2 separate regions of the Homo sapiens genome follow, and region 1 is linked to region 2. Evidence: fine-mapped expression QTL. A gene starts in region 2. The other region holds a variant in brackets. All regions are shown on one strand. Distances are between the middles of the regions.

Region 1 (11,129 bases), 29 kb after region 2:
TTTTGTATTTTTAGTAGAGACGGGGGTTTCATCATGTTGGCCAAGCTGATCTCGAACTCCTGACCTCAGGTGATCCCCCGACCTTGGCCTCCCAAAGTGCAGGGATTACAGGCGGGAGCAACCACGCCTGGCCTAAAATAGTATTCTTAATTCAGTGCCCACCCAATCAAAAAAGTTGTAACTTCCCCATCTCAGTCAATAGCACTATCATTTAGCACCCAGTTACTTGGGTCAAAAACCTAGAAATCATTCCTGGTTTCTCTCTTTTTTCTTCCTCACCTCCCCAGATCTTCCAACTCTTCCTATTGCCAACCAAATCCATGGAGAGGCCCACCTTTATTACACACACACCCCATCACTCTCATGCTGGTTCAAGTCACCATCCTTTCTGGCTTGGGTGATAACAACCTCCTAACTATTCTCTCTGCTTCTTCTGTTCCTGCCTCCTAGAGTCCATTCCCCCAACAGTCAAAGTCAGAGCATATCATTCCTCTGTTCAAAACCCTCCTTTGGTTTTTCGGTGTATTTACAATAAAATCAAAACTCCTTATCATGGCTGGCAAGGTCCTATCTTCAGGGGTTATCAACAATGGCTGCACATTAGAAACATCTGAAGGACTTAAAAAGAAAATAGGAGACCGGGCGCGGTGGCTTACGCCTGTAATCCCAGCACTTTGGGAGGCTGAGGCGGGCGGATCACGAGGTCAGGAGATCAAGACCATCCTGGCTAACACGGTGAAACCCTGTCTCTACCAAAAATACAAAAAAAAATTACCTGGGCGTGGTGGTGGGTGCCTGTAGTCCCAGCTACTCAGGAGGCTGGGGCAGGAGAGTGGCATGAACCCAGGAGGCGGAGCTTGCAGTGAGCTGAGATCGTGCCACTGCACTCTAGCCTGGGCGACAGAGCGAGATTCCGTCTCAAAAAAAAAAAAACCAAAAAACAAAAAACTCCCAGGCCTTGCCCTAACAAATTCAGATTTCATTGATCTGGGTTGAGGCTGGAGCATCCATGTCGCTTTTAACTCCCCAGGTGGTTCTGAGGGGTTCAGAAGCCCTTCCCTAAGAGTTCTGGTCCTTCCCCACCAATGGATGCTCCTCTGTAACTGCTCTTCCACTTCCATCACTAAAGCTCTGACCTCGGCTGGGCGCGGCAGCTCATGCCTGTCATCCCAGCACTTTGGGAGGCCGAGGCGGGTGGATCACCTGAGGTCTGGGGTTCAAGACCAGCCTGGCCAACATGGTGAAATCCCATCTGTACTAAAAATACAAAAAAAAAAAAAAAAAAAAAAAATTAGCCGGGCGTGGTGGCGGGTGCATGTAATCCCAGCTACTTGGGAGAATGAAGCAGAAGAATCTCTTGAACCCCGGGAGTGGAGGTTGCAGTGAAGCAAGATTGGGCCATTGCACTCCAGCCTGGGCAACAAGAGGGAAACTCCATCTCAAAAAAAAAAAAGAAAAGAAAACAAAGACATCATCTCCTCACACGTGAAAATTCCAAGTATCCAGAGCAAGAGCCATCCCCAAATGTAATGTAAAACCATGGCATAATTCTACATGCCACATAAAACCTGCATTCCACCCCCATCCCACTCAACAAGCCCTACAGACAATACAAGGGCTGATGCCCTGGGGTATGGGGAGAAAACTGTCCTAGTTGACATTCTTCTAAATGCTGAGCATAGCTGACTGGGGCATTTGTTCATTTTTGGGACTTGATGATCACCTTACCTTCCCACTGAATGGATGATGCCAAAAAAAGAAAGCAGAAAAGATATCCAGCCTTGCTTGTTCCCCTGATAGGTCGGCAGATAACTTCTCTCTACTTCTGTGAAGTAATGTGGGCACTGGCAACATTGAGGGTGGGTAATCTGACCCCCACCCCTACTGTGGCCTATGGAGGGGTGAGACCTGTGGATGATCGAGCTTTCACTTTGAGTCAGCATGTCTCACTTTGAATTCCTTCACCATTGCTTATTAGCCATGTGACCTTGGCCAAGTTATTTTTGTATTTTTGTGAGTCTTTTTTTTTGAGACAGACTCTGTCACCCAGGCTGGAGTGTGGTGGCGCTGTCTCAGCTCACTGCAACCTCCGCCTCCTGGGTTGAAGCGATTCTAATAGAGACAGGGTTTCACCATGTTATCCAGACCAGCCTTGAACTCCTGACCTCAAGTGATCCACCTGCCTCGGCCTCCCAAAGTGCTGGGATTACAGGCGTGAGCCACGGCACCCAGCCAGCCACTGCGCCTGGCCTTTTGTGAGTCTTTAAGATGGAAATAACAGTCATTTCTTACGTATAACATGGGCTGTTCCCAATTGCATTAATATACATAGACATCTTGTTTTGTTTTGTTTTGTTTCGTTTGTTTGTTTTGAGATGGAGTCTCACTCTTGTTGCCCAGGCTGGAGTGCAATGGCATGATCTCCGTTCACTGCAACCTCCACCTCCCAGGTTCAAGTGATTCTCCTGCCTTAGCCTCCCGAGTAGCTGGGATTACAGGCATGCGCCACCACACCCAGCTAATTTTTATATTTTTAGTAGAGACAGGGTTTCACCATGTTGGCCAGAATGGTCTCTAACTCCTCACCTCAGGTGATCCACCGGCCTCGGCTTCCCAAAGTGTTGGGATTACAGATGTGAGCCACCGTGCCTGGCCCTTACATAGAAATTTTTACTTTCTAAAAATAATATTTTAAAATGCTGTTGGGGGCTGGGCGCAGTGGCTCACGCCTGTAATCCCAGCACTTTGGGAGGCTGAGGCGGGCCAGGTGGGGCGAGGTGGATCACGAGGTCAGGAGATCGAGACCATCCTGGCTAACACGGTGAAACCCCGTTTCTTCTAAAAATACAAATAATTAGCCGGGCATGGTGGCGGGCGCCTGTAGTCCCAGCTACTGGGGAGGCTGAGGCAGGAGAATGGCATGAACCCGGGAGGCAGAGCTTGCAGTGAGCCGAGATCATGCCACTGCACTCCAGCCTGGGCGACAGAGTGAGACTTCGTCTCAAAATAAATAAATAAATAAAACAAAATAAAATAAAATGCTGTTGGAGGCCAGGCACTGTGGCTGATGCCTGTAATGCTAGCACTTTGGGCAGATCATCTTAGGTCAGGAGTTTGAGACCAGCCTGGCCAACAAGGTGAAACCCTGTCTCTACTAAAGATAAAAAAATTAGCCGGGTGTGGTGGCATATGCCTGTAGTCCCAGATACTCAGGAGGCTGAGGCAGAGAATCGCTTGAACCCGGGAGGCGGAGGTTGCAGTGAGCTGAGATGGTGCCACTGCACTCCAGCCCGGGCAACAGAGCAAGACTGTGTCTCAAAAAACAACAACAATACAACACACAAAAAAAAGACAATACATAAGTGAATGAACATAGCTGTGTTCCAATAAAAATTTATAGACTCTGAATTTTTTTTTTTTTTTTTTTTTTGGAGACAGCGTTTCATTCTGTTGCCCAGGCTGGAGTGCAGTGGTGTGATCTTAGCTCACTTCAACCTCTGCCTCCTGGGTTCAAGCAATTCTCGTGCTTCAGCTTCCCGAGTAGCTGGGACTATGGGCACACATCACCATGCCCAGCTATTTTTTTTTTTTTTTTTGAGATGAAATGTTCTGTCGCCCGGGCTGGAGTGCAATGGAGCGACCTTGGCTCACTTCAACCTCTGCCTCCTGGGTTCAAGCAATTCTCGTGCTTCAGCTTCCCGAGTAGCTGGGACTATGGGCACACATCACCATGCCCAGCTATTTTTTTTTTTTTTTGAGATGAAATGTTCTGTCACCCAGGCTGGAGTGCAATGGAGCGACCTTGGCTCACTGCAACCTCTGCCTCCCTGGTTCAAGCGATTCTCCTGCCTCAGCCTCCCGAGTAGCTGGGATTACAGGCACCCGCCAATATGCGCGTCTAATTTTTGTATTTTTAGTAGAGACGGGGTTTCACCATGTTAGTCAGGCTGGTCTGGCACTGTTAACCTCAGGTGATCTGCGCACCTCGTCCTCCCAAAGTGCTGGGATTACATGTGTGAGCCACCACGCCCGGCTTCCCAGCTAATTTTTGTACTTTTTGTAGAGACAGGGCTTTTGCCATGTTGGCCAGGCTGATCTTGAACTCCTGGCCTCAAGTGATCCAACCGCCTCGGTTTCCCAAAGTGCTAGGATTATAGGCGTGAGCCACTGTGCCCAGCCAACTTTCATATTCTCTAGATTATTTTCAACAGCTGGGCAGGGTAGCTCACGCCTTTAATCTCAGCACTGAGTCTGAGGCAGATGGATCACCTGATCTCAGGAGTTCAAGATCAGCCTGACCAATATGGTGAAACCCCCATCTCTACTAAAAATACAAAATTAGCCAGACGTAGTGGCACATGCCTGTAATTCCAGCTACTTGGGAGGCTGAGGCAGGAGAATTGTTTGAACCTGGGAGGCAGAGGTTGTAGTGAGCTGAGATTGCGCCACTGCATTCCAGCCTGGGCAACAAGAGCGAAACTCTGTCTCAAACAAACAAATAAAAACATAAAAGCATTCTTAGCTCATGGCCGTATAACAACAGGTGTTGAGCTGGATTTGGCCCTTGGGCTATACTTTGCTGAACCCCACTGTAGTGGACACTGTGGTAGCCTCCTGACAGCCCCTCCTGCCTTCCCATTATGTCGCAACTGTTTGAATTTGGAAGGAACTGACCCATCCCTAGCTCCAGGAGGAGCATAACTCTTAACCTAATCAGTTAATTCTTTTTTTGAAATAGGGTCTGGCTCTGTTGCCCAGACTGGAGTGCAATAGTCCGATGATAGCTCACTGCAGATTCAACCTTCTGGGTTCAAGCAATCCTCCCGCATCAGCCTCTACAGTAGCTGGGACTCCAGGTGTGCAACACCATGTCTGGCTAATTTTTTTTTTTTTTTTTTTTTTTTTTTTTGAGACGGAGTCTCGCTCTGTTGCCAGGCTGGAGTGCAGTGGCACAATCTCGGCTCACTGCAACCTCCGCCTCCCGGGTTCAAGTGATTCTCCTGCCTCGGCCTCCAGATTAGCTGGGATTACAGGTGCGCGCCACCACACCGGGCTAATGTTTTTGTATTTTTAGTAAAGGCGGGGTTTCCCCATGTTGGCCAGGATGGTCTCGATCTCCTGACCTCGTGATCCGCCCACCTCGGCCTCCCAAAGTGTTGAGATTACAGGCGTGAGCCACCGCGCCCTGCTGATAATTTACATTTTTAAAGGATCATTCTGGTTCTCTATTGAAAATAGACTGTAGAGAGAGGTGAGGGTAGAAGAAGTGAGACCATTCGGGAAGCAACTTCATTTATCCAGGCCAAAAATGATGGTGGTTTGGACCAGGGCAGAAACAATGGTAAGGATGAGAAGTGGTCAGATTCTGGATGTATTTTCGAGCAGAACCAACAAGATTTCCTAAAGGATTGGCCATGGATTATGACAGAAAGAGGAGTCAAGTACAACTCCAGGGTTTTTGGCCTTGGCCACTGGGAAGATGGAGTTGCCACTTACTGAGACAGAAGTCACCGTAGGAAGAAACAAGGTTTTGCGGGGGAGGTGGTGCGATAGGGGTGGGGCAAGGAACCAAATCACAGGAAGGATAAAGGTGGGGCTATCTTCAGGCTGGCACAGGAATTCAAACGCTCTCAGAACTCATGCCTCTTCATCTTTTGTCTCTGGTTCTCTTCCTTATCAGCCTCATTCTTTCCTTCTACAGACAGCGATCTCCTGGACATGAAAGATGGACAAGCTGATACCCAGCTTGAGCTCTCAAGAGAACAGAAAGGCGTCTCACACTCTCCACAAAGCTAGAAACAAACAACACTGTGGAGGATTTTTACTGGTCATACATTGGGTCATGTGCCCTTCCCTGAGCCAATCTGCAGTCAGAAGGATGAAGTACTCTAATTGGCCAGTTTTGGGTCACGTGCCTGTTCCTGGCTGTCATTGCACCAACACATCAGGGAATGGGGAGTTGAGGAGTGAGGAGCTTCCCCTACACAGAGAGACGGTGGGTAGCCCATTTGTCCGCTAAAACCTTCAAGATACATCTAGAATGCATCCATCCACATCGTGCTAGGCTGAGCTACTATCACCTGGTACTTGGAACCGCCTCCTCACTGGTCTACCGTCTCCCTTGCAAACATTTTCTACAACAGCCAGTAATCCCTAAACATGAATCCCATCACATCACTCTCTTCCTGTGCTCAGCTTCCCATTCTCAAGGGAAGTCCTCCCATCTTCTAAAGAATATCTACCTACCCAGCCCAATTATATATGAGCTTTTTAGGTTTTTTTTTTTAGAGCAAAGGAATGACAGGTTTTGTCAAGCTGCAGGTGACTATAAGATACAGACAGCTGACAATTGTGGACTCCTCAGGCGTGGTGAAAGATTGAGCTACTATCATTAGGGTTGGCTGGCTAGGACCCCGGCAGGCACCTGGGGATAGTAGTGCTGGGAAGTTCTGGGGAGTTGCACTTCTGAATGCTGGCATGACACTGCCTCAAGACATCTCTCTATCCAAATGGAAAAAACAACCACATCCTTTGTCAGCTAAGGAGAGTTAGCAAACTGTTTTTATTAAATACTGATGTCTGGCCGGGCACGGTGGCTCACGCCTGTCATGCTAGCACTTTGGGAGGCCGAGGCGGGTGGATCACTTGAGGCCAGTAGTTCAAGACCAGCCTGGCCAACATGGTGAAACCCCATCTCTACTAAAAATACAAAATTAGCCGGGCGTGGTGGCGGGCGCTTGTAATCCCAGCTACCCGGGAGACTGAGTTAGGAGAATCGCGTGAACCCAGGAGGCGGAGGTTGCAGTGAGCCGAGATCGCGCCACTGCACTCCAGCCTGGGTGACGGAGTGGGACTCTGTCTCTAAATACATA[A/CATAA]ATAAATAAATAAATAAATAAATAAATAAATAAATAAAAATACTGATGTCTCCAAGCTTTGGCTATGTGTTGCAATGTACAACCTTTCCAATGTCGCTGCACCATTGCATTTAGAGGAAATCTCCATTCCCTAACAGGAACTACAAGGCCCCCTGCATGACGTGGCCCCTGCTGCCTGTTCAGCTCCTTGGCTCGAAATCCTTCCCCTTATCTTGCTGATTTTGTTTTAGTCCCAATGTCTCCTGCCCCCTCACCTCAGTTTCTTGAATACGTCAAGACTTCTTTGTCTCTGAGAGGTAGCTCAAGTTTTCTTCTCTCTGCCTGGGGGGTGGCTGCGTCTTTTTGGTTCTTTTTAGTTAAAAGTCTCACCAAAGAGGTATTTTCCTGACCCCTTACCTAAACTAGTGCCTGCTCAGTTATATTCTCAATCATAACACTTTATTTCCTGTATAGCACATATCAAAATTTGTGATCATTTCATTTGTTGAATATTTTACCTCGTGGCAAAATCACACGCCATCCTCCAAGGGGCGAGACCCCTCAGTGTGAAAGGGGCAAGAGACACAGAACAAGAGTGACAAACGCATAGGAAAGCCCAGAGGCCGCTGCCTTGACCACAGTGGGTCGCTCTGAGCAGTTCAGTGGTTAGGTCTCTTAACCAAGAAAGATAGAGCAAACCATTCATGCTCATGCTGGACTTCTGGTTTCCTTCTTTTTAGTCAACTAGGTTCAACCCTGATGGTCCAAGAAGGATATGCCATTTTCATCCTAAGAACCTCTCTAGGAACCCCAAGTGGGCTCCCCACTTGGTATTTTTGCTAAGCAATCACTGTTGGGGGGGGTACAATTACAGGCAGAAAGGATCTGAGCCCCACCCCTCGGGACTCAGGAATTTGAGGACCTTGGTCTTTAAGATCTGCCCCATCAGCTTTCAGAAAGGGCGGGGCGACGGGAGCAGCTGTCACCTCCTTCTCTCCACCCTGCCGGCGTTCACGTGTGTTCCGCTGTGCAGTAACAGCTCTTCTTCCGGGACTTCCTGGTCGCCGCGACCAATCAAAATGCTTTTCCTGTCCTTACCATTGTCAGCCGCTGCCAATCGGCTCGCCTCTACCAACGCCCCTTAAAGGCGCAGCCACTGCCTCCGGAGCCGGGGCGAACCAATTCCTCCGTTGCGGCCCCCACCTGCAGTATGGAGTCGTCTCGGGGGCGGCCCGGGCCCGAGACGGACCTTCTGGCTGTAGCGGAACATCAGGCCCTAGTCTTTGGCGGCGGGCCGGGCCGAACGTCCTCTGAGCCGCCCGCAGGCCTCCGGGTGTCCGGGGAGGAAGAGACCGAGAACGTTGGGGGCGCGAACCGCCACCCCAGGACGTCCCCGAAGACGTCAAGCTGCGGCGTCGTCCACCGGCCGGAACGGGAGGCTCTGGAGAACGAGCCCGGCCCTCAAGGGACGCTGTCTGGGGCCGGGAGCCGCAGGGGGGCGCCGGGTGCAGAGCACGAACCTTCCCTGTCCTCCCGGCACAAGAACCCGGCGCCGCCCGAGGGCAAGCCCTCCTCCGGGAGGGACTGCCGTCGAGGGGGACCAGGCGGCGGGATGGATGTTGAGCAGCAGGAGGAGGAAGACAACGACGAGGAGGCGGCCGCGGGCAGCAGAGCCGGCCGCTCGTTCTCCAGCCGTCTTCAGGACAGCCGCAGCCTGGACGGGCTGAGCGAGGCGTGCGGTGGCGCCGGGTCCTCAGGGAGTGCCGAGTCCGGCGCGGGCGGCGGACGCCGCGCCACCATCTCCAGTCCCCTGGAGCTCGAAGGCACAGTGAGCCGCCACGGCGACCTTACCCACTTTGTCGCCAACAACCTGCAACTCAAGATCCGTCTGAGCGGCGCGCCTCCACCCCCGCCTTCTGCCCCTGCGCGGCCCTGCCCAGCGCCTGCACCCACACCCACACCGGCCATTCCCCCAATCGACCCCGAGGTGCTGCGGGATCTGGAGCGGTTGAGTCGGGAGCTGGGAGGCCGGGTGGACCGTCTGCTTCGCGGTCTGGGTGGCGCGGTGCAGGAGCTGACGGCGCTGAGCGTGGGTTGCATCCAGACCTACCGCGATGCTGTGGACTCCTTAGGTGAAGCCGTGGACATGAGCATCAAGGGCATGTACACCCTGCTGGCGCGCTGCGAGGAGCTGGAGCGGGCTCTGCAGCCGGTTCAGGGGCTGGCGCGCCAAGTCCGGGATATCCGACGTACTCTGGAGGTGTTGGAGGCCCTGTGCAAGTGACCAGGAGGACAGGAGAGGCCGGTCCTGGCCAGGGCAGGGCCCAGCAGGACCCTAAGGACTCTTCAGGGAGTCCTGGTGGGAAGTGCCCACTGAGGGGAGGCCTGTGTGTTGGAGGCTCTTCCAGATGCGTTCAGCTGGCCCGTGCCCACTCGCTGGGCCTTAGGCTGGTGTATGTGGGGAAGTTCTAACGGCTCTCCTGGTGGGAAGGGATGTTGCTCTGCTTGTATTCAGTTGGCCATCTGTAGCTACCCTGTTCTTCCCAACTCTCCTCCCTAGCTAGAGCACCAGCCCTGGGAACACGGGGCTTTAGGTCTGCTTGAAGGTGAGGACGTGACTCCCACATGTAATCAGGAGAAAGGGACAGAGGAAGCCCCAGCCCCCACTGTGGCTATCCTGACTCCAGTGGCCACATCTCAGGTGCCAGGGGCTGTGGGAGCTTGTGCCGTCCTTGGCCAAACACCCCGCAGGCAAAGATGCACCCCTGCTGATGGAGAGCCTTCTGCTTCTGCCCTCTGGCCCTCTACCATACCACTTCCCCAGCCAGAACCGGCGTGCAGCTAGGAGGAATGGGTTGCACGGCGGAGGGGGTGAGGTGGGAGGCGTCTCACTGCTCTCAGGGTTCAGGTAGAATGTTGCTGGTTTTGAAGCTCACCTGTTGTGGAGTGTTCTAATCAGTTTTGGCTTTCTGAGTTTTTGTGGAATTAAAGTGCTGCTGCTGCGAAGGCTGAGGCTGAGTCTGTGTGGGGTTGCAGTGATTAATAAGCCAAAGGAATGGGAATGAGGGTCGGTGTTGTTCACGCAGCTCCCTTGGGGCTGGTGCTGGGAGTGGGGTGGGGGTGGAGATGTCTCAGGCTCCGTGGGGAAAGATATGGTTCTTGCTCTTAAGCATCTGGTCTGAGGGGAAATGTGAGGACACAGATAATCACTCACAGGGGCCCAGAGATCCGGTAACCACAGAAACGTAAAAAAGATGCTCTAGAAGAGAAGGGGAAGAAATTGTCTTCTCAGGTCCTCATGAATAGGCAGGGGCTGGGTGGATTGGACGGACATCTTACCTCTGGGGGAAGACTGGGAACACTTGTCAGCTCTATTCCTGACCATTTCCCACACTCTGCAGATCAGTGCCACGTGGTTTGAGACAAATTTGTCCCAAAGCCTTTTGTTTACAGTTCACACAGTAAGTTCAGGAGCCATATATTGTGGCCATAAGATGTAGAAGCAAAGATCACGAAACAACCCCGGTTTCTCTCAATCCCTTCCTCTCAAGACACGCCCACTTTAGAATGCGCTCCAATACGCTCCCTGTTCTGGGATTGGAAATGTGGCGCTGTTTTTCCCCAGAGACGTTACTTGGCTCTAAAACGGAGTGCAGTAATCGTACTTTCGAAAAGTTTCAATCCTGGCCCGTACGGGGATCGAACCCGCGACCTTGGCGTTATTAGCACCACGCTCTAACCAACTGAGCTAACCGGCCAGTTGCTACGAAAAGCTTGAAATAAATCTATTTAGTTACAATACTGTTCAGTTCTCTCGGGAAAAACCTTCAGTTGTGGGACTGCTTTATGAGAAATGAAAACAGAACACAAACACTGACTAACTGAGCACCTAGACGAGTAACAGACAGTACTGGCAAGTACAGATGATGCGACTGGTGTAACTGCAGGTCGAGGCGCAAGTACCATGTGCACGAAGAGCAAAAACCCAACAGCGTGTGGCAGATGCACCGGGAGAGGATAGATGGGTACGTGAGTAAACCATGTAGGATGGAAGTTATGAGTTTCTGCAACTGTCCTCACAATGTTTAATGTTGGCAAAAGCGTGGGGGAAACACGGAGGCACCGCTGGGATTCGAACCCAGGATCTCCTGTTTACTAGACAGGCGCTTTAACCAACTAAGCCACGGCGCCGCCGGAAAGACGCTTAGGATCTTGTTTCCTTGGCCAGGTCAGCTGAATTGCAGAGAATGAATACAAAGATGTCACAAAAAGTCGGCT
Region 2 (11,129 bases):
GCTTTTCGTCCAGCAGAAGAAATGGTACCAAAATCAGTCTGTAAAGGAAGTAAATTGGGGAGTTGGCGGCAAGGCAGAGAGCATAGCTATGATGGTCTCAGTCAGTAAGGCTGGGCCCTGCAGGAAGTCAAATATGAATGCCTAGAGGTGTTCACAAGCACAAAGAAGGTGTAGGGGGAGGCAAGTGCCAGGCACAAGCAGGGGCAGGTGAGGACTCTGGGTGACTGTGCTATAGGGCCCCAGGCTACGGTTAGCCCTGTAGGTTTCCCAAGGGCCTGGCCTAAGGCAGATCCTTGATCGATATACCTTGAGACCAGAAGGTGCTCCGAAATCACAACCGTACAATTAGGGGATCTAGGAACAATTCTTTGGAGATACCAATGCCTTTGGCTGGTGTTGCTGCATTTCTTTACTGGGGACTGATAGATGGAGAGGTGGAAAGATGAGCTGAGGCACATCTTTCAGAGCTACTGGGAGGCCATTTCTTCCTGGCTGTTAGGATTTGTTCGTGTTTGGGAGACCTTTAGAGCGTGGTTAAACCCATATGTTGGGATTTATGCTGCTTTTATGGTAGCAATACCCTATATTAAGATTTGAAGTAGACCCGGAAAGTTAGTGGCCGGTTAGCTCAGTTGGTTAGAGCGTGGTGCTAATAACGCCAAGGTCGCGGGTTCGAACCCCGTACGGGCCAGTGGGTGGCTTTTTTTTGTGTGTGTTTTGTTTTCTGACCCTCTGCTGTTATCCGGAAGTTTCTACCCGGAGCCAGTTGCCTTCTGGTAACAGAATTATATTGCACCTACTGCTTCCTATTCCCTGAATCACTAGCGCTCCCGAAGGCTTGGAGGGAGGAGTCTCTGGGCACCCGGGTGAAAGGAAGGTTCACGTGCAACCGCCGCGTCTTTTTTTCCCTGAAGCGCTTTCATGGAGGCAGATGTTTGTCAGTCAAGGGAAGTAAGAAAGGCATTGGATGAAAACGAAGCCCTAAGCCTCGTAGTCGTGGCCGAGTGGTTAAGGCGATGGACTAGAAATCCATTGGGGTCTCCCCGCGCAGGTTCGAATCCTGCCGACTACGTCATATTTTTTTCTTCAGCATACTGACCATATTTCTCTCCAGGATGGGATGATCCAGTCGGCACCCTCCAAACCTCTCATCTAGGAACTCTAGAATCGAGAATTTGATTTAGAGTCTATGATTTTGGTTTGAAATCTATGATTAACGTCTTTGGACATTGAAGGAAATCCGAGGAATGGACAAGTGATGCAAGAGCCAGTTGAGTTACCAAATTAGTTCTAGAAAGATCTGAAAAAGCTCGGTCCGGGTTCCTAGCTCTATATTCTTGTAGATGAATTTCAGGAACCTTTATGGCAGCTTCGGCGCCGTGGCTTAGTTGGTTAAAGCGCCTGTCTAGTAAACAGGAGATCCTGGGTTCGAATCCCAGCGGTGCCTTTATTCAATTGAAACAGCGTGATTTTGCGGCTAAATCCACATCCTTTCATGTATTGTTTTTATATCAGAACGCGTAAGAGTTTCTGTTCTGCACTCATAGCACCCACATTTCCTGCAGAGTCAAGCTGCCACTCCCATGAGATCGCCACTCTAAAAGGTGGTTCTCTAACTTAGGGGCAGAAATGTTGCATAGGCCTAAGGGTCCTTTGCTTAACTGATGCCACACCCCACTGGTGCAGGTGGACTGGGTCAGGCGGCCGCCCCACCCTCGATGGAAGGGGCTGCCCACCTTCCAGGCCTCTTTCTCCACCCTAGGACGTCCCCTAGAACCTGAGCCACTTTGTTTTGTTTGGCTCTTCATTATAGTTCTTTGGGTTTGGTGGCTCATAATGTTATATATATAGTATATAATATAAAAATATATATTTAAATATACAGTATTTAAAATTTGGCACAGCTTCCAGATGCGGTCCTCTAACTGGTCTTTCACTTGCAGTTACCTCCATCCCTCTCCACCAGCGGGATGTCAGGGTAAGGAGTAAGCAGGGATCCGGCTGGCCTGGCCTGGCCTGGCACCAGGTTTCGTGCAGCAGGGTGCAGAAGGGCTGAGGCCATGTGAACAGAGTCCAAGAAAGCATCATTCGGGAGTCGCTAGGGATCCTGGTGTGGAAGGGCAGGGCACTTTTCTGGAGCACTGAAGCTAGGCTGGTTAAGGAAGAAATAAATGCCAGAGATAAGGCAAGAAATAGGATCTGTGAGCTCTTGGCAGGACCTAAACCTCCTTGGAAGATAGGCAGAAAGCTCTCGACACCATTCCATGGCCCACGAACCAATGTAAGATGAGCAAATGGCTTGAAGGAATTGCTACCTCCAGGTCAAGCCAGGGATGCAGCACTGCCGAGACCACGTTTGTGCCAAGCACTGGGCTGGACCCTGTGCAGAACCAAATGAACAAGGCACGTTCCCCTTTCAGCACTAACGGCACTGTAAGAACAGGGAGAAGTGGAATCTAATCTGGCCTGAGGGTAGAGGGTGATCAGCTAAGTCTGAAACACCATGTAGAAACTTGCCATGTATGGCCGGGCGCGGTGGCTCACGCCTGTAATCCCAGCGCTTTGGGAGGCCAAGGTGGGCGGATCACGAGGTCAGGAGTTCCAGACCAGCAGCCTGGCCAACATAGTGAAACCTGGTAACATAGTGAAACCTCGTCTCTACTAAAAATGCAAAAAATTAGCCAGGCGTGGTGGCAGGCGCCTGCAGTCCTAGCTACTTGGGAGGCTGAGGCAAGAGAATCGCTTCAACCTTGGAGGGGGGAGGAGGTGTTGTCAGCCGAGATCGCGCCACTGCATCCCAGCCTGGGCAACAAGAGTGAAACTCCGTCTCAAAAAAATGAAATAAAATAAACGAATGATCAGCTGTTTGTTAGTTCTTGGTTATTAAAAGTGGGGTCTATGTACGCACTTTTCTGAGGAAAAAATAAAGTGTGGGGTATGTGGATGGGATTATGTGTGAACTCCCTGGATTGTATACATGTTTAGGAAGAGGGCCATAGCTTTTTTTTTTTTTTTTTTTTTTTGAGACGGAGGGAGTCTCATTCTGTCACCCAGGCTGGAGTGCAATGGCACAATATTGACTCACTGCAACCTCCGCTTCCCGGGTTCAAGCAATTCTCCTGCCTCAGTCTCCCGAGTAGCTGGGATTACAGGCGCCCGCCACCACGCCTGGCTAATTTTTGTATATTTAGTAGAGACGGGGTTTCACCATTTTGGTCAGGCTGGTCTTGAACTCCTGACCTTGTGATCCACCCACCTCAGCCTCCCAAAGTGCTGGGATTACAGGTGTGAGCCACTGTGCCCGGTGAAGAGGGACATAGCTTTCATAAGGGTCATAAAGGATTTAGGCCTCCCCTTCTGCAGCGTTTAAGTGCCTGAGGCCAGGGAAGAGGTGACTGGATTATTTTGCAGAGAAAGCTGGGGCCCAAGGGGAGGGAGACAGGAATTGGAAAAGGGTAGGAATGGGGGAGGAGATGCCAGATCAGCCCTGAGAACCTCTTTACCCATCTCAAAGACTTGGGACACTAATGGGAAAGGCTGGGCTAACTTCTGCTGCCCTTCCCCACTGTCTGTCCAGGGGAACCTGGGAAAGACAAATAGGAGCTGAATCCTTCACTGAAAGCCCCGTCATCGTATCTATGGGTTGGGCATTAGGAACGGCCTGGCCCCACAAATCACACAACTGGGGTGTAGAACAAAATGGTTCCACAGATGACACCAGGCTGGTCCAGGGCCGATGCAGGCCAGAACCCCGCTGGGAGGACTCCCCAGAACAGGCACTGAGCTGAGGAAAGGCAGGACACGTGGTCTGCTACCGACCCCACCAGATCTTGCTGGGACTCTGGGCAGCTCCGGAGTAAGAGCAGCATGGTGAGTGTTTAAGAGCGCAGAGGCTCACTGGGCAGTCCCGGGGACACTGCTAAGTCCCCAAACCGGGTCTACAGGCCTTCGACCACATTCATGCGGCCACGTGCCTCAGAGCCTTCGGGGGGTCTTAGGAGGCAGGCAGGAGGGTCTCCCTTCTAGGCCATTCTAGGAGGGGACTGGGGAGCAGAGGTTAGACTGTAGGGTAGGGGTAACCTGATCTTACAGTCCGGAAGCCATGAGACTAGTCGCCTGGCCTTGCGCCCCGCCCCACTGCAGGGTGGAAAGCCTGTCCCCCTCCAGTCACCCAGCTCAATAACGCCCTCTTCCGTGGGTCTTCTGGGCCCCAGAAATCGTTCCCTCTTTCCCTCGCTTGGGTACTGCCATGCGGTCTGGGGAACCCGTGGACTATCGATGGGTCTGGCCCAGGGTTTGCCCTGCCCGTTAGCCCAGGAGGATAGACAGACACGGGGCACTGGTGTTCCCCTAGTGATTTCTCCTGCCCGTCCCGAAAGCAAGCAATTCCACCGCTTCTCTTCAAAGCTCTGCAACGAAGAGCTAGGTCCAAGGACCGCAGGCGGAGGCAGGAAGTGTCAAGATCCCAGGTTACGGAATGGCACCAAGTCGGTAACCAAAGGAAGCAACAACCCGGGTGTTCAAGGCAGTCGTGCAAGGCGGCGCGGGGGCGAGGCCGAGGCCACTCCCTCCCACTTCCTTGACGCTATTTCCTGGGAGGAGCCGGAGCTCGCGGCCCGGAGCCAAGAGATTCCCAGCCCAGTGCTCCAAAATACTCGGCCTGGGGGAGGCTGGTCCGTGAGCGTGCGCCCGGACCGTTCCGCCATGCATAGTGGACCCAGCACTACAGCAAGCCTGGCACGACCTCTAAGGCGGTTCGCGGCAACGTCCGCACGTCGGCTCGTTGGTCTAGGGGTATGATTCTCGCTTCGGGTGCGAGAGGTCCCGGGTTCAAATCCCGGACGAGCCCTCCTTTACCTTTTACTGAGACAAGAGTGTCTTCAAGGAATAGGTTACCTGACCAGCGCTGCAGGAGGCTTGACTGTAAGTCATCAATGTACAGTAAGCTCTTTTGTGGCACCGCGGTAGCAGAAAGCATCTCAATCCCCAGACCCGCCTGGCATGTCAGGAAGAGACGAGGCACGCCCAGACTTGGGCAGGTCCCTCCCTTTCTGCTTCCTGACTTCCTTCCTGGTGTCTCAACTCGGCCACCACAGCCTGGTTTCGCTTTGATTGACACGCGTCAATCTATAGTTGTGGATGACAGTGTTCGGGAGAGCCCAGGAACTGTCAAAACTTGGTTCTCTGCAGTCCTGAAGGCACTCTGTCTCTTTCGGTCACTCCATCTGACGATTGGTGCCTGAAATACACCTACGGTTTCTGGTCAGCGTTTATCAGTGGTTGGAAGAACAGAACCCCTAGGAACCCTGCTGTCAGCACGCAGAGTGTAAAGTCTCAGATCAAGGATTCGGAGAAAGGTCTCTACAGGTCCCTCCTCGTTAGTATAGTGGTGAGTATCCCCGCCTGTCACGCGGGAGACCGGGGTTCGATTCCCCGACGGGGAGAGTACTAGCAGTTTTGAAACTTCTATCTTTTTGCTTTCATTAAATCCGTCCTGGTCCCTGGGATGGAGCTATAAAAAAGAGGGAAAGGAGGAGGGGAGGAGAGTTTGGCCTTCCTCTCCAGCTCGCATTCTAAGTTTCCATTTTACTTCAAGCAACTTAGAGTTCAAACGTGTACCTAAAGTGGCCATTATCTGCTCTGCTCAGTATGCTCATTAGCGCTCAGACTTGGCCTAGCTTGCTCCCTCCTTGACGGAAGTGCGCATTTCCAGTCTCTGCTTGAACCTGGGCAAGTAGCTTTGGCCCCCAGCCGTCCAGGGTGCAGAGCCCGGGCTTTTGTTTCCTTTCGCCTCCCTGCTTTTTGTGGATTCGCACTGCGATCCGGGAACAGTAGGCAACCCCGGGCCGAGATTCCGACGCGCTGCTCTCGCCTGGAGGGGCTTGCAGGGCGCATCCGTCAGGAGCGCGGTGGTCCAGCCGTGGTCGCGGGTGTAGCGGAAAGTGGGTCCTTTCGGAGCGGAAGTTTCCTCAGGAAAACCTCACGAAAACCCTCAACGATGCTGGGGCCCAGAAAACACGAAAAGGAAAAGGCGGGGGGGGGAAAAAACACCCAAAACGACTTGCGTTGGCCGGGAATCGAACCCGGGTCAACTGCTTGGAAGGCAGCTATGCTTACCACTATACCACCAACGCTCCGGTGCTAGCTCTCTTTCCTGGTTTTCATACCTCAGGTTGGTTGGGATGAGTCGGGTTGGACCCGTGCGGATCCAGGAAAACAGCGATCGAGGTAAAAGTAATGGCTGCCGTCGTCTGCCCAGCGCGCAATTGTGAGTGACCTTCACCGCTAGCGCGCGCCACCCACCCCACATGAACCTGTAGGGTTATGCCCAGTCTACAGACGAGGAAACCAAGATCCAGGGAAGCTGAGTCACCGGCAGAGCTGGGATTACGTCTAAGATTTGTCCAGGGGGCGAGAACTGCAGCGACACCATGATTTATCATCTCCAGAAAACAAAAAAAAAGGCCTAGACACATAAAAATGGCTTCTCTGTAGAGTGAGCTCAACGAGCTCAATGTGATTCCAGTTAAGGAATTGGGCCTTAAGCCAAATGCGCCTAAACGCAACTTGCCTCTCTATTATTTATCCAGAGGATGAATTTAATTCCTACGTACATGCGCCCACATCTCGTCAGCTGGTGCCTCAGAGAAATGCGCTGACAAATCTTAAAGGTGGGGCTTCATGACAAAAGTCCGCCCGTTATTGCTGCTCAACAGACCCATCAAGTCACGCTGTTGGACAGGCCTCGTGGCGCAACGGTAGCGCGTCTGACTCCAGATCAGAAGGTTGCGTGTTCAAATCACGTCGGGGTCAAACAAAACATTGTTTTCCCTAATCAAATAGACCTACGGTGACATTTTTCAGGATAGGAAAAAAAAAAAGCCTCCTCAGTAGAAGGATAGGAGGGGAATGAGACAAATATGAACGTTATTCAGAAGTTGGGTGCAGACTTTCAACATTATGTGATATATCCCTGTGGCAAAACTGCGCATGTATCCCTAAGGTCTATAAAAGTAAAAATAAATTTAAAAATAAAAAAATTCCCTGTTGTATGGAAATTGTTAAATAATTTTTTAAATTATTATTTTTTGTTTGTATTTTTTTTTCCCTTGAGACGGAGTTTCTCTCTTGTTGCCCAGGCTGGAATGCAATGGCACTATCGCGGCTCACCGCAACCTCCGCCCACGGGTTCAAAGGGATTCTCCTGCCTCAGCGTCCCGAGTAGCTGGGATTACAGGCATGCACCACCACGCCCGGATAATTTTGTATTTTAGTGGCGTGAGCCACTGTGCCCGGCCTTTTTAAATGTTTTTAATAATCTCTGCTGTTCTAGGTATGTTTACTTAACACTGAACACAAGGATATTAAATACAAATATTACCTTTCTCCAGACTTCCCAGCAGTCACTAGAAGCCCAGGACCACGTGCATTTTGGCTGCTTCCAGTATATTGAAAAACAAAACCGGTGGGATGGGATGGCTCACGCCTGTAATCCCAGCACTTAGGGAGGCCCAGGCGGGCAGATCACGAAGTCAAGAGATCAAGACCATCCTGGCCAACTTGGTGAAACCCCGTCTCTACTAAAAACTACAAAAATCAGCTGGGCGTGGTGGCGCATGCCTGTAGTCCCAGCTACTTGGGAGGCTGAGGCAGGAGAATCGCTTGAACCCCGGAGGCAGAGGTTGCAGTGAGCGGAGATTGGCACCACTACACTCCAGCCTGGCGACAGAGGGACACTCTCTCTCAAAAAAAAAAAAAAAAAAAGAAAGAAAGAAAAAGAAAAAGAAAGAAAGAAATCCAGGCCACCCACCCTATATGCCTTGTCTTTTCCAATGGGAAATTTATTCCCTTCACCTCTCTCTCCTCCACTAACAATACCTTTCTAAGTGTGACTGGCTTTGGTTGATGGGGAAGAATTTGGGCCATCTCACCACCATCCACACAGCAGACATTGCCCAGGTTAAAATCTGTGCTCCGCTTTCCTTCCCCTTTCTTGCCCCTGCCCACCTTCTGCCATAGCTGTCTCTGTGTCACTGTATCACTATGTACAAGACAAAGGCAGACAGTTGACCAGTCCTTGCAGAAATGGTGCTTGAAGAACTGCTGATGACCTGAGCAAGGTAACAGCATAGAAACTCTGGCGACCTAAGGCGGAGCTGGCTGTGAGGCTGGCTACCAAGCAGTCCCACCACCATTCTCACTGCCAGGGCAACCAGAAAACCTTGCCTGCATTAATTATTTCATAAGGAGATGCAAAATGATCATTTCCTAATTCTATCATTTTGTGTACATTTATTAGCTGAAACACACACACAGATATATTCGTAACAAAATAAAGAAGAAATACAGCCAGGTGTGGTGGCTCACGCCCGTAATCCCAGCACTTTGGGATGCCGAGGTGGGCAGATCACCTGAGGTCAGGAGTTTGAGACCAGCCTGGCCAACATGGTGAAACCCCGTCTCTACTCAAAATACAAAAAAAATTAACCAGGCATGGTGGCACATGCCTGTAATCCTAGCTACTTAGGAGGCTAAGGCAGGAGAATCACTTGAGCTTGGGAGGCGGAGGTTGCAGTGAGCTGAGATCATGCCATTACACTCCAACCTGGGCGACAGATTGACGCTCCGTCTCAAAAAAAAAAAAAAAAAGGAAATACACTTACAGTCCTTGTTTCTCTAACTGGCCACGTAGTGGTAGCTGATAACTAGCTGCTGCTGCTGCTGCTGCTTCTTTTTTTTTTTTTTTTTTCTTGAGATGGAGTCTCGCTCTGTCACTCAGGTTGGAGTGCAGTAGAGTGCAGGTGATCCACCCATCTCGGCCTCCCAAAGTGCTGGGATTACAGGCGTGACCCACTGTGCACAGCCTTTTTTTTATATTTTTAGTAGAGACGGGGTTTCATCATGTTGGCCAGGCTGGTCTCGAACTCCTGACCTCAGGTGATCCTCCCGCCTCAGCCCCCTAAAATGCTGGGAATAAAGGTATGAGCCACCGCACCTGGCCTAACTAGCTTCTTCTATTACCCATTTTGTCTTCCCATTGTCTTCAACAAGCCCCTCAACTGGTCCTGGTTATTTCCCTCGTAGGGAGACCCAAACCTTGTTCCTGAAGGGTCTAAGCCACTAGTAGTCCTATCTGAACTGAGTGCTTCCGCTTGTAGTTTTCCACTGACCTTAGAATCTGTATTAGTCTGCTCAGGCTACCATAACAAAATGCCGTAGACTGCGTGGCTTAAACAACAGATATTTATTTTCTCACTGTTCTGGAGGCTCAAAGTCCAAGATCAAGATGTTATCAGGGTTGGTGTCTGCTGAGGCCTCTCTTGCCGGCTTCTACATGCCGCCTTCTTGCAGTGTCCTCACATGGCCTTTCCTCTGTGCCGACAGGGAAAGAGAGAACTCTGGAGTCTCTCCCTCTTCTCCTAAGGATGCCAGCCCTGTAGGATTAGGATTCCACTCAAATGACCTCATTTAACCTTAACTACCTCCCTAAAGCTGTGTCTAGAAATACATTTACATTGGGTGTTAAAGCTTTATCATATGGATTTTGGAGAAACACAATTTCATCCATAACAACCACAGAAGAAAATGGTAGAGAAACAATATACCTAGACCTAATTCTTGAAAATATTTTTTTTTTGAGACGGAGTCTCTGTCTGTCGCCTAGGCTGGAGTGCAGTGGCGTGATCTCGGCTCACTGCAAGCTCCGCCTCCTGGGTTCACGCCATTCTCCTGCCTCAGCCTCCCTAGTAGCTGGGACTACAGGCACCCGCTATCACGCCCGGCTAATTTTTTTTTTGTATTTTTAGTAGAGACGGGGTTTCACCGTCTTAGCCAGGATGGTCTCGATCTCCTGACCTCGTGATCCACCCACCTCGGCCTCCCAAAGTGCTGGGATTTCAGGCATGAGCCACAGCGCCCGGCCTACTTCTTGAAATTTTACTGACCGGGCCTGGTGGCTCATGCCTGTAATCCTAGCACTTTGGGAGGCCGAGACGGGTGGATCACGAGGTCAGGAGATCGAGACCATTCTGGCTAACACGGTGAAACCTCGTCTCTACTAAAAATACAAAAAAAAAAAAAAAAAATAGCCAGGCGTGGTGGCGGGTGCCTGTAGTCCCAGCTACTAGGGAGGCTGAGGCAGAAGAATGGCGTGAACCCGGGAGGCGGAGCTTGCAGTGAGCTAAGATCGCGCCACCGCACTCCACCCTGGGGGACAGAGCGACACTCCGTCTCAAAAAAAAAAAAAAGAAATTTTACACTGGAACTCCACCTGTATGCCTTTTAGTTCATTTAAAAAAACATCATAAACAAATATAGCAAAATGTGTTAAGATTTGACTAATTTAATAGCAGTCACACAAGTGCCTTTAAAGTGTATTCCTGGATGGGTGTGGCGGCTCACGCCTGTAATCCCAGCACTTTGGAAGGCCAAGGTGGGTGGATCACCTGAGGTCAGGAGTTCGAGACCAGCCTGGTGAAAATGAGGAAACCCCTGTCTGTACTAAAAATACAAAAATTAGCTAGGCATGGTGGCCCACGCCTGTAATCCTGGGAGGCAGAGGTTGCAGTGAACCAAGATCACCCCATTGCACTCCAGCCTGGGCGACAAGAGCAACACTGTGTCTCAAAAAAAAAAAAAAAAAAAATTAGCCAGAATGGTGGCGGGCGCCTGTAATCCCAGCTACTTGGGAAGCTGAGGCAAGAGAATCGCTTGAACCGGGGAGGCAGAGGTTGCAGTGAACTGAGATTGCACTGCTGCACTCCAGCCTGGGCAACAAGAGTGAAACTCCATTTCAAAATAATAATAATAAGGCCGGGCGTGGTGGCTCATGCCTGTAATCCCAGCTCTCATGGAGGCAGAGGTGGGAGGATAGCTTGAGCCCAGGAGTTCGAGACCTGCTTGGGCAATATAGCGAGACCCTGTTCTCCACAAAAAGGAAGAAAAAAAAGACAAAATAATAATAATAATAAATAAATAAAAAAGAGCCGGGAGCGGTGGCTTCAGGCCTGTAATCCCAGCACTTTGGGAGGCTGCAGCAGGCGGATCACGAGGTCAGGAGTTCGAGAACAGCCTGACCAACATGGTGAAACCCCATCTCTACTAAAAATACAAAAATTAGCTGGGCATGG

Which allele goes with the higher level. Alleles are on the strand shown, and positions count from the first base shown. SD is a standard deviation of normalised expression in the study named.
For the expression in NK cells of the gene that starts at base 3,639 in region 2, A is the high allele of the variant in region 1 and CATAA is the other (large effect, 0.88 SD a copy in Gilchrist 2021).

What was found.
Region 1: its variant is fine-mapped to the expression of LINC00324 in NK cells (Gilchrist 2021, PIP 0.95).

Annotation. Positions count from the first base shown.
Region 1 is chr17:8,187,073-8,198,201 of GRCh38, reverse strand. BORCS6 (BLOC-1 related complex subunit 6) reads left to right here and starts at 8,022. Exons shown (of 1, transcript NM_017622.3): 1 at 8,022-9,857. The coding sequence starts at 8,062. The coding sequence ends at 9,135. LOC124903913 (a long non-coding RNA gene) reads left to right here. Exons shown (of 2, transcript XR_007065604.1): 2 at 5,702-6,927. TRT-AGT1-1 (tRNA-Thr (anticodon AGT) 1-1) reads right to left here and starts at 11,042; the gene lies at 10,969-11,042. It overlaps TRI-AAT5-5 (tRNA-Ile (anticodon AAT) 5-5), which reads right to left and starts at 10,609; the gene lies at 10,536-10,609. RefSeq lists enhancers at 1,866-2,175, 5,646-5,745, 7,563-8,208, 7,951-8,230, 8,209-8,855 and 1 more and silencers at 8,341-8,390, 8,591-8,650, 8,721-8,770, 10,904-11,013. The variant A/CATAA (reference allele first, on the strand shown) is at 6,873.
Region 2 is chr17:8,216,553-8,227,681 of GRCh38, reverse strand. It overlaps LINC00324 (long intergenic non-protein coding RNA 324), which reads left to right and starts at 3,639. Exons shown (of 3, transcript NR_026951.1): 1 at 3,639-3,870; 2 at 4,408-5,389; 3 at 6,173-7,052. CTC1 (CST telomere replication complex component 1) reads left to right here. Exons shown (of 23, transcript NM_025099.6): 23 at 1-2,867. TRW-CCA1-1 (tRNA-Trp (anticodon CCA) 1-1) reads left to right here and starts at 6,742; the gene lies at 6,742-6,813. TRG-TCC3-1 (tRNA-Gly (anticodon TCC) 3-1) reads right to left here and starts at 6,134; the gene lies at 6,063-6,134. It also overlaps TRD-GTC2-11, TRP-CGG1-3, TRT-AGT1-2, TRS-AGA2-6 and TRI-AAT4-1. RefSeq lists enhancers at 3,856-4,095, 4,346-4,475, 4,022-4,763, 5,086-5,285, 5,666-5,805 and 2 more and silencers at 4,826-4,875, 5,336-5,405.